3 separate regions of the Homo sapiens genome follow, and all the other regions are reported to be linked to region 2. The links are microRNA targets in miRTarBase. Many come from high-throughput screens and were not tested one by one. Region 2 holds a microRNA gene; each other region holds the end of a gene's coding sequence. Distances are between the middles of the regions.

What was found. Region 2 holds the annotated microRNA hsa-miR-545-3p (UCAGCAAACAUUUAUUGUGUGC, at 3,368-3,389, opposite strand). A microRNA usually pairs through its seed, bases 2 to 8, with sites in the 3' UTR of a target mRNA and lowers its output. Matches are read on the target gene's strand: a 7mer-m8 pairs with bases 2 to 8, a 7mer-A1 pairs with bases 2 to 7 and ends in A, and an 8mer does both.
Region 1: miRTarBase lists HMGB3 as a target of hsa-miR-545-3p. Seed matches in the 3' UTR shown: 7mer-m8 at 2,305-2,311.
Region 3: miRTarBase lists SLC45A4 as a target of hsa-miR-545-3p. Seed matches in the 3' UTR shown: 7mer-m8 at 2,312-2,318, 7mer-m8 at 1,877-1,883 and 7mer-m8 at 1,444-1,450.

Annotation. Positions count from the first base shown.
Region 1 is chrX:150,987,505-150,990,504 of GRCh38, reverse strand. It overlaps HMGB3 (high mobility group box 3), which reads right to left. Exons shown (of 5, transcript NM_005342.4): 5 at 1-2,728. The coding sequence ends at 2,591. Among named protein-coding and RNA genes, the nearest start is that of HMGB3, 5.7 kb to the right of the region's middle.
Region 2 is chrX:74,283,759-74,288,224 of GRCh38, forward strand. MIR545 (microRNA 545) reads right to left here and starts at 3,451; the gene lies at 3,346-3,451. The region is part of intron 1 of FTX (FTX transcript, XIST regulator); the gene reads right to left. It overlaps MIR374A (microRNA 374a), which reads right to left and starts at 3,599; the gene lies at 3,528-3,599. LOC124905199 (a long non-coding RNA gene) reads right to left here. Exons shown (of 2, transcript XR_007068266.1): 2 at 4,107-4,466. RefSeq lists an enhancer at 1-561.
Region 3 is chr8:141,208,882-141,211,881 of GRCh38, forward strand. It overlaps SLC45A4 (solute carrier family 45 member 4), which reads right to left. Exons shown (of 9, transcript NM_001286646.2): 9 at 1-2,816. The coding sequence ends at 2,691. Among named protein-coding and RNA genes, the nearest start is that of SLC45A4-AS1, 44 kb to the right of the region's middle. RefSeq lists an enhancer at 1-450.

The sequences.
Region 1 (3,000 bases), 77 Mb from region 2:
CAAGCTAAGCCTAAGCCTTAGGTAACATCATGCCACTTACATCATCTCAGAGAAACTAGGGCATTATTCCACTAGAAGAGCAATCTTGCCACAGTGTGAAAACGTTGAGTAGTGATCTTGCTGCCCCAGCTAATGGACCAAGTGGCCTCAACTTGACAGCCTCTTTAAAACTCAATGTTTGCCTAATCAAAGATCATCTGGCTAAACTGCTCCCCCACTTCTGCTTAGCTACTTTGGAAGCACAAAAGTTACCCCTTTCCATCCTTGGCCCTTCCCTGGTTGGTACATCTAGTTATGAGATAGACGCGCACCACTTAACAAATCACTCCCTTTTGACCGCAGGTTGTTTCTCTTCCATATTTGACGAGGCTGGCAACAGCTCCCGAATCTTGGCCTAGCACATCACGAATTGGGAAGCTAAAGCTTTAGCTTAGAATGCCAAGTGACAAGGACATGGCTGAAGCAGGAGGGGAAATTCTGGAACAAGTGCCTCTGGGCAAACCTCACAACCGAGTTTTTTAAATTAGTGGTCATTTTCTAGAACTAGAGGAACACATTCAGGACAAACAGTTCTGATGGGAGAGCGAATGGCTATGAACACATAAGAGATCAGGCTGTGACCGTGACCATAACTCGTACTCATCCAGGACCCGACAGGGCGGAGAGGACACCGCCTCCAGACATGCAAGTTTCTCAACAGTGAATTTTAAGAAAAAGCTGCTTTCTCTTAAAATTAATAGCACAAAAACACTCCTGCGTGTTTCATAGCCTCAAACATACACACCCAAATATTAATGCTGGGCAATAGCAACACTCACCCACAACACAGTACTGTATCCTTCATTGCTACGGACAGTAATGATGTATATACACATCAGCCTTCAAAATGGTATTTAGTGTCACCACTTGCTACTGTGGCCATCTCCCCTCACCCCAACCTGGATAAAATGTTACACTACCCACTAATATAACCACTGACACACAAACCAAGCTCCTTCCAGTTTAACATTGAACATCAATCTACATTTCCAGTGAATGAGCTAAACTTATGAGCAGGCCATTCAACTTTTCATGATACATTTAGTGCTCAGAAATGGTTGATTCCATTAGCCTGCCCTATAGCTCAGGTGGCCCAAGATGGAGCCTATCATCTTCCTTGGGGTGTTTGGTGTTTCCAAGTAGGAGCAAAAAAAGGATACCGTCCCCTACCCCACCACCCCATCCCACATACCCTCACTGGCATCCAGGAGACCAGCAGCAGGCTCAAGACCCCAAATGTTGGGCACCACAAATAATGTGATATGTGCCAGGAGCACGGGGGGTAGGGGTGAAAGAGAAAAACAATAAGGCCTTAATTTTTGACACACCATACACTCTGAAATTGCTGTTTAGCAATGCATTTGGCCCCACAAAATAGGGGGTGGAGGTGGGACAAAAGTTAAACCTAGATAGCCTCAGTCCTAATCACCCACCTTCCTATACCTTGGAAGGCTGCTGAACCTTGCCTATGTCGTTCTCCTAACTCCTCCAGACTTCATCTGAATGCCACTCAGACACAAACAAAATCACACAGTAGCTTCAAGTAGCCCTCTCCTTCATCTCAGCCCTAAGTGAGCTGGCCACTGAGTAATAAAAGAAGCTACCACATTTATAGGGAGGCCAGTCTCCAAATACAATGGAGTGGGGGTTTGTTCACTGCTGTGAGTCAGAAATTGACTGTTATAATAGAGAAGAGTTTTAAAAATGTAATACTGTTTATTTAACTTCAAAAACATTTCAGCATTCTAAACATACAAAAAAAATAACAGAACGTTGCGAATCGTGTTTAAGTACAGGAGGTTCTTGAACTTTCATTGATGCAGTGACTCTTTGCTTTGCTGACAATGAAGAGTTCTATAGTTTGTTTAAAAACAAACAGTTTAAAAACTACCGCACTTAAAAAAAAAAAATATTCTCATGCCAGCTGACCCCCCTTTGTCCACAGCTAAGATGGCAGCAGAATGCTATGTCACTATATACAGAAACAAGACAACCTGAAGCTAAATGGATGCCCCCTGCAGAGTCAACAGGTCCAGCCTCACAGTGCACGCCCTGAGCTACAGCCTCTCCCAAAAGGCATCTTCCCCACAGCCTCAACGCCGAGCAAGGAGCATCAAGGGTTTGTCTCGGTTGTTTTGTTCTTTTTACAAACTATAGATATATACAGTTGAAAACTCAGGATTTCTAGCCAATAACCATAGTTACCACCACCTTACAAATAAAAAGAAAATGCCAGAAACATCTTTAAATGCCTTGTCACACCAACAGCAAAGTGCACAGAGTGAGGAGAACACGAGAGTGCCTTTTCATTTTAAAAATGTTTGGAAATATGTACAACTTTGATACAGTTTCAGGGTGCTCCAGACACCCATGGCCACTTCATGTAAACCACTGACAATTTCTAGAGCACTTTGAGAGACTACAATATGATCGTGATCAAATTTTGTAATTAAACCTAATGAGGGCAACAGACACTTCTCAAATAAGAGATGTGTCAATTACGGCGCTCCCCTACTCTAAGTATTCACAAGGAGACAGATAAACAGTTTCTTTATTCATCCTCCTCCTCCTCCTCCTCCTCTTCTTCCTCCTCCTCTTCTTCATCTTCCTCTTCCACCTTTTTCCGGGCAACTTTAGCAGGACCCTTTGCACCATCAAACTTTCCTTTCGACTTATAGTCAGCAACATCCTAGAGGAACAGGGACACATTTCAAATGAGTATGCGGCTGTTTTAACACAAAGTAGAAACATGCAGTCCTCATCTCAGGTAAGAGGACAGGAATTGAAATCAAGTAAGACAGTGCTGCTATCATATATATCTGAAGTGTTTCCATATATGAATTTGGTTCTTAGCCATTCGAATTTAAAAGTTAGTGGGTGTTCAAGTGTCCTTCAAGTCACATTAGTAGGACTATCAAATCCTCTGTTAACATTTTTTTTTCCTTAAAGAGTAAGGAAAAT
Region 2 (4,466 bases):
CCCAGCACTTTGGGAGGCCGAAGCGGGCGGATCACAAGGTCAGGAGATCGAGACCATCCTGGCCAACATGGTGAAACCCCGTCTCTAATAAAAATACAAAAATTAGCTGGGCGTGGTGGCGCATGCCTGTAATCCCACTCGGGAGGCTGAAGCAAGAGAATTGCTTGAACCAGGGAGTCGGAGGTTGCAGTGAGCCGAGATCACGCCACTGCACTCCAGCCTGGCGACAGAGCAAGACTCCGTCTCAAAAAAAAAAATCAGCCAGAATCCCAGAAAAGTTTAACACTTGGGGTATGTTCATCCAACAACTTCCATGTACATACACAAACATGAATTCTTATTTTACAATGATTAGATGAAACTATACTATTGCCCTTTAGCCCTTTTTCAATTAATATACTGTATACTTCTTTCCAAGTCAAATATTTATCTTCAAGACTATTTTTATTTTTAATGGCTATGCTGTCCCATTACATGAATACACCAAAATGTATTTAACCAAGTTCCTATTCATGACTAGGTAAGTTTTTCCATTATTTACTGTTATGAACACCGTGAATATGCCCATATCTAAATCTTTTTTTAAATAATGTTAAACATATATTTGGGGGTATATCCCTATAAATGAATACAAATCTTACAGTGTAAGAGATTTGCAAAGATCAGTAAAACACATCTCTACCCTTGAGTTTAAATCAAAGGAGAGAGACACAAACAGGTAACATTTACCATTATCATGTCCATGGATAAAGATAAACAAAATTTCATGGTGCTTCCTAATTGAAACTGCAGCTGTTGCTAACAGAAAAGGCTCAAAGAATACTATTAGACAGTAGCCCAAATTAAAATTCCATTTGCTAGAATTCCAAAGTTATTCTAATGCTAAATATTGCCTCATTGGCATTTCAATATGACATTGTTGTTTCTCCTTTAGCAAGCCTTAAAGGAGAGAACCAAGCAGAAGCTGCTCAGAAAACCACCTACCCTAAAGGCAGAGAAGTGAGTAAGGTGCAGGGCAGTATATGACACTGGACCTGGACTTCCATCTTTCCTTCCCCCTACTATTTCCAGTAAACAACAGTGAGCTATAGCCATTTTCTTTCAGAAACAACGTGGATTCTCTCCCTGGGACTCTCATTCCTGCACAGATCTGCTTACACATAGTTGGGCTGTGCTGGTATTCATGCTGACTTAGAAGACAAAAATAAGAATGAAAAGAAGCTTTTTCAGCACCATGATGGGTCAGATACAGATGACATTAACACAGAAGACAGACAGATTTTTAAAACCTATTCAACAAAGATGAGTTACTGTGATAACACAAACAGTCCTGAATCTTATAGTAACATTTCAGTCACAGGCGCATATACAATGGTGGTCCCATAAGATAATAACACCACGTTTTTACTGTACCTTTTCTATGTTAGATATGTTTGGATATACAAATACTTACCACTGTATTCCAAATGCCTACAGTATTCAATACAGCAACATGCTGTACAGGTTTGTAGCCTAGGAGGAATAGGCTATACCATATAGCCTAGGTGTGTAGTAAGCTATACCATCTAGGTTTGTATAAGTACACTCCCCTATGATGTTCACACAACAACAAAATGACTTAATGATCCATTACTCAGAACATATCCTGTCTTTAAGCAACACATGACTGTATAGTTAAATGTTAATTATAAAATCTAGGTGTTGGGTACATGGCTTTTCACCGTACAATTCTTTCAACTTTTCTGTATGTATGTTTGACAACTTTCACAATACAATTTTGGGAAAAATCCAGCAAGCAGCTTTAAAAATATGGCTGTAAGACCTTTCCTTCTATTATATTTTATTCCTAGGATGATCCTATCCAACGAGATGAACCTATTCAGTGTTTCCTCCATTTTGTTTTAGATTTAGCTTTCTCAAATATGACTTTGAGCTCTCCGACTTTTTAATGAAGTGAAATGAATCAACATGTATTCATAGGCAGGTTACCAAGATAGTACATGTAAAGTTGGGGAGGCACAAGGGGAGGGGCTCTAAGCTCTTGGAAGTCTAGGCTCACTATCTGTATACATCTAAATAAATGAGTATTTCAGACACCCCACTTCTTCATTTAAAAATTAGTGTTAGGGACCCTCTAAACATTTGCCTCAGCTTACCTTTCTGCCTTATCTCACATTAAGTCCTTATTTCCCATATTCTCATTGCAAAGAACTGTGTAGGAAGGAGGGGGGCAAGGACGAAGGCACCAAAGCATGCTATGTCCACGTGCTTCAAGTTTGAATATAATAAAAGGTATTTCTAGAGTAGAGGTTCAAAGCTTGATGTTGAAGGGCAGGGTATAACTGACTGACTGCAGGACCCTGGGGGAGGTCTTATAATCTTCTACTTTAAAACATGTCTTAGCTGGCTTATCTGTAAAAGAGGAAAAAGACTTGTCACAAGCAATGACAAATGAAGTAAATAAATATGAATTTCTGGTCTGGTGAATGGAATGAGAAATGAAACCATCACTGTCGAGTGATGATCCAGAGTGGGCACAGATCTTTTTCTACAAAGGCTTTGTGGGCCACAATGTCTCCAATATATTTAATGGCAAAAACAGCAACTACTTTTGCACCAACCTAATAGCTACTTAATTGTGCCACTGGGCCGCAAAAGCGGCCCCAGGTAAAACATCGATGAATGAACATGGCTGTGTTCCAATATAGAATGGTATTTACAAAAACAGGTAGCCCATGGGCAATAAAGTTTGCCCACCCTTGGTTTAGAATATGGAGTCTGGTTGGGTGCAGTGGCTCACACCTGTAATCCCAGCACTCTGGGAGGCTGAGGGAGGTAGATCGCTTGAGTCCAGGAGTTCAAGAACAGCCTGGGCACCATAACGAGACCCCTTCTCTACGAAAAATACAAACATTAGCCAGGGGTGGTGGCACACACCTATAGTCCTAACTCAGAATGCTGAGGTGGAAGATCACCTGAGCCTAGGAGTTCGAGGCTGCAGTGACCCGTGTTCGCACCATTGCACTCCAGCCTGGGCAACAGAGTGAGAACCTGTCCCTTAAAAAAAAAAAAAAAAGAAAGAAAAATGCAAAGTCCTATCTAAGAATACTATTTGGATGATTACCTGGGCCCTGAGGATGAGGCCCCAATCTAACAGTTATCACTCAAGTCCCACCAAGAAAGCAAGTGTCAGCAATAGCAACAGTTGCAACATCTGTAAATATCAAGGACTGAAATCCAAACACAAAAATGGCATTGTCTCATGAGAAACTCTTAGGAAGATATATACAGAAATATCAAATTTCTGACCACATGCTTTTTGAAGAAACAGCTGACAATCCAGAGCCTGTGGAGCTCACTTTAGCAGGCACACAATAAATGTTTGCTGATGAGTCATTCATTTATTCATCTAATAAACATTTACTGAGGCCTACTAATGTGCCAGGCTGGGCTCTGGAGATGAAGACACCTTCCTTGCCCTCAAGGAGCTCACAGTCTAACTGATAACAGGAAGAGAGACAGGCATATACACAGACAATTACAATACAATCTGATAAGTGCTATAACACTTATCAGGTTGTATTATAATGGCCGATGTAAAATTTCTTCCCAGGGGGTGCTGCTCCAGGCTGCTGCTGGCTGTAACATCAAGAGAGGTGAGGAACAAATTATAGAAATCAAAGGTTAAATGCTTTTCGGTTATTTCAAATATTCAGGCTTTCCCTAACCCGTGGCCATAGACGGAATTGGGAACTAGACACTGGCATGATGTAAAATGGGACTTCCATGCACAGACTTCCAATAAAGGAACTTCTCAATCCCCTCCTCTAAAATATGAGCTTTTTTTTTTCCTTTTTGCTTATACTCCTCTTAACCTCCCCACCCTACTACCCACATGAGCCTGGTTTAATATCTACAGCTAGCAAAATGCTGAAAAATGGGAGCTTACAACTAACTGGATTAACCCAGTGTAACCGGATAGCAAAAAGCAGTAAGTAATAGCTCATTTGGCACTTCTAAATCCAATAATCCTCATCCTTCACTGGAAAAAAAAAGTTAGAATGTTATTAAATACAAAATAGATAATATACAGATCAGAGTAGGAATAAGTTAGAAAAGTTTATTTAATAAACATAATTAAACAGATTCTCTAAACTAGAAATAACATTCAGTTTCAGGAAACCAGAATTAGACCCCTCCAAGACCTTTGAGAATATCTAATTCACCTATGTATTATAAACAAGAAAAATGAAACAGAGAGATAACACACTCTGCCCACTCCCTTTTCAAAATCATGTGAGTGATAGTAACAGACTCCTTGAGGCAAGATTATTACTGTAATAGTTATTTGGTTCAGATGGTTTTATACAAAGATAAGATGGCATTTTTCTGTGCCTCATACCTTTCTTAATAATACCTAGGTTTTTACTGGCTTTTTTGTCTCTGACCAGCAAATAGGGCTGATA
Region 3 (3,000 bases), not on the chromosome of region 2:
CCACCACAAATGAGACCAACATTATCCTAGTTTGGTAACTGGTCTGCGCACATTACACAAGACTCGACCAACCGACACACCCTGCCTGACACTCCACTCAGTGTGCAGAGGCACCCAGGCCACCAGCCTGCACAGCCCACACCCCAAGGGTGCCACGAGCCCAACTCCAGCTGCGTCCTCAGCACTGGATGGCTGGCCAGCTTCCCCAGGGGGCACCCGCACGGCCTCCTCGTCCCTCTCGGGCAAGGCTATCAGCCAGAGCACCTCCCCTTTGACACTGACCGGCGTCCCCAGCCCCGCCTTGTTACTGCATCCGTCTGAGGTACAAGGTTAGAAGCCACAGACACCCGAGCTGCAGCCTGACCCACACAAGCTGCGGGCGCAATGGCGCTTTGCAGACAAGACAGCCTGCCCGTCTGCCCTTCTTCTCGGCTTCCCTTAAGACACAAGGTGACGACACGGACGGTTTCAAGTGAGTGCAATCTGGAAATAATCTCAGTGCAGGGGAGGGGTTGAGGCCAAAGATGTCGTGACCTGGTCCCCGCTGTGGCCAGGCCGGGCCCACACGCACCGCCAGAGCCCCGGTCACCCACACCTGCCTCCCAGGAAGGCAGCTCCAGAAACCGACTCTACTGACCCTGGACCCCAGCCCCTGCGGTCCCCTCATTTGGGCTCTGCACACTGACCTGCACACTAAGAAGGGCTTTGCTTGCAAACACCTGAAGTGCTGACAGCTTGACGAGTCTACAAAGTGTGCAGCCACCGACTCCTGTCACCGAGGAGCACACAACAGTCACGCCTGTCCCTGGCTGGCACTGGCTTCCGGCACGTTCATACCCTGACAGTGACTGTGGCAAGGCCATGTGGAGGGCACTGAATGGCCTTTGTTGTCCTTACTTCAGATTAGTCGAGGCTGGGATCTCAAGGGTTAACACACTATTCAGAGGGGGGTTGCGAAGCCCCTCTTCCTCCTAAAAATCAAGTCGCAGCCAGGCCCTGAGACTTCTGCACTCCCAGCTGGCGAGGAATCGGCTTTGGTGAGCCCTGGATCCGGCCCCTGGGCCTTCAGATGAGGGTGGGAAGCCTCAGGCAAGGGGTGGCCCCCAGATGAACCCACATTTGGTGTGGTTTGGGTCGGATCTTGATTCGGGTCAGGCCACTGCCACCCCACATCCGCTGCTTTCTTGCCTCCAACTGTTTTATAGTCGTCAGGACGAGAAGCCGGAGAAACCAGCTAAGACGGGAGCTGCGCCTCGAGATCCTGACAAGTACAGCCAGGTCTCAGAGAGGGGATCTACAGTCTTAAAGCCGCTAGAGGATCAAGTTGCATAGAGTGAGCTGCCACGGACGCCCGGCCGAGGTGAGGAAGCCAGGGGTGCCGTCCCCCAGAGAAGAAGGGCCACAGTGCCCAGCCCACGGGGCTCCCGCTGGCCGGAGGGCTCGCAGCAAAGCTGGCAGCACTTTCAGTAGTCGGACTTGCCCTGTCCAAGCACGAGATTCACAAGGCCATTCTCAAGTTTCCACACATCCAGAAAATGTTCTTGAAGTCTTGAAAGTCAGCCCTCTGCGATCCTGGGACACCGTGGCCTGGCAGACACACCGTGCGTGAGCAGGTACCCAACTGCCACCCGGACACAAACACACAATCTACAAAGTGCCACCAGCGGCAGGAGACACGGCAAGACCAGAGGCCCATCAAGTACATTAAACAGTCGTTCCTTTAAATACACAGAAAATTCAAGTAATTTATTTAAAAACTGCTTTAGTTTCATCTTGAAATATATATACGTGTATATATATATTTGCTCTAGAATGATCATATTGCAGCATGATTCTCATGCATTTCAAAGTACTTTATTTAAAAAACAACTTGAGGCAGCAAAAGTATTAATTACAATTGTCTGACTTTATCTGTGTGATGTGCGGGGCCTCCCTGTCTCCTGATCTCAGTAAGCCTACACCGACCGTTTCAAATAGGCTTAGTTCTAAAGAGACTGTGGTTTGGAAAACATTTCCAAATAGCTGCAGTACTTGCCCGAGTTTTGCTTATTCGTTGAAACCAGAACGACTGTGCGGAGCCCTCCGGTGACACGGGCCTTAGCTGTCCCAGACGTCTGCGTCCCTTTGCACCTGTCCCGATTCCAGCGTCGAGCAGGTGAGCAGGCGAGGAAGGCATGGAGTTCCGACAGGTTCCAGCACGCATGTCCCCTTCGCAAGCGGGGGAGGCCCTCGCACATCCACACACCCGAGGTAGCCTTGCGGCGGGACTTGGGAGGCAGGGCCCGCTGGGAGCTCTGCTCTCAGGAATCCCCAGCAAATGGTTTAGAGACGAATCAAAGTGCAGTGAAAGTCAACGTTTCCTTCCCCCTGACGTTGGGAGCGGTCTGGAGGGGCAACCTGGCCTCCTAGGAGAGTCCTTCAGACGGGACGAGCGGGGTCACATGGCTGGGCGCAGACACACTCACACGCGCACGCAGGAGCTCGTCTGGAGCTCACGCTCCGCCCCCAGGTGGTGCCCAGCCCATCCCTGGGCAGGGTGTCTGGGAGCCACCCCTGCAAATCACTGTCTTCTGCCCAGGCCCCCCGGACCAGCCTCCTCCCAGCTTTGGTGTGCGGTCGCTGCCCAAGGACAGGGCTGCCCTGGGCACAATGTGTCCAACTCGCTGAGGAAAAGAAGATACGTCATTCTTCTAAGAGAACCACATTGTGGAAAAGAAAATTTTTTTTCTAAAATAATCATAAAGAAAAATACTCTCCAACAGCTGCGGCACCAGCCAATGTGACGAGATCTGACAGACGTCAATACCTGCAGGCGTCTACAGAGAGGAAATTTGATAAAAATATTTTAGTCACTGACTACACTACCATTATCTGAAGCATTCAGATAAGACTTAGCAGAGAATGTCAGATTTTGTTTTCAATTATAATTTTAGAAATGCAAAATCTTATTTTTTCTAAGTTGCTTATTGTCTATATAAATGTTTTATATCATTTAAAAAC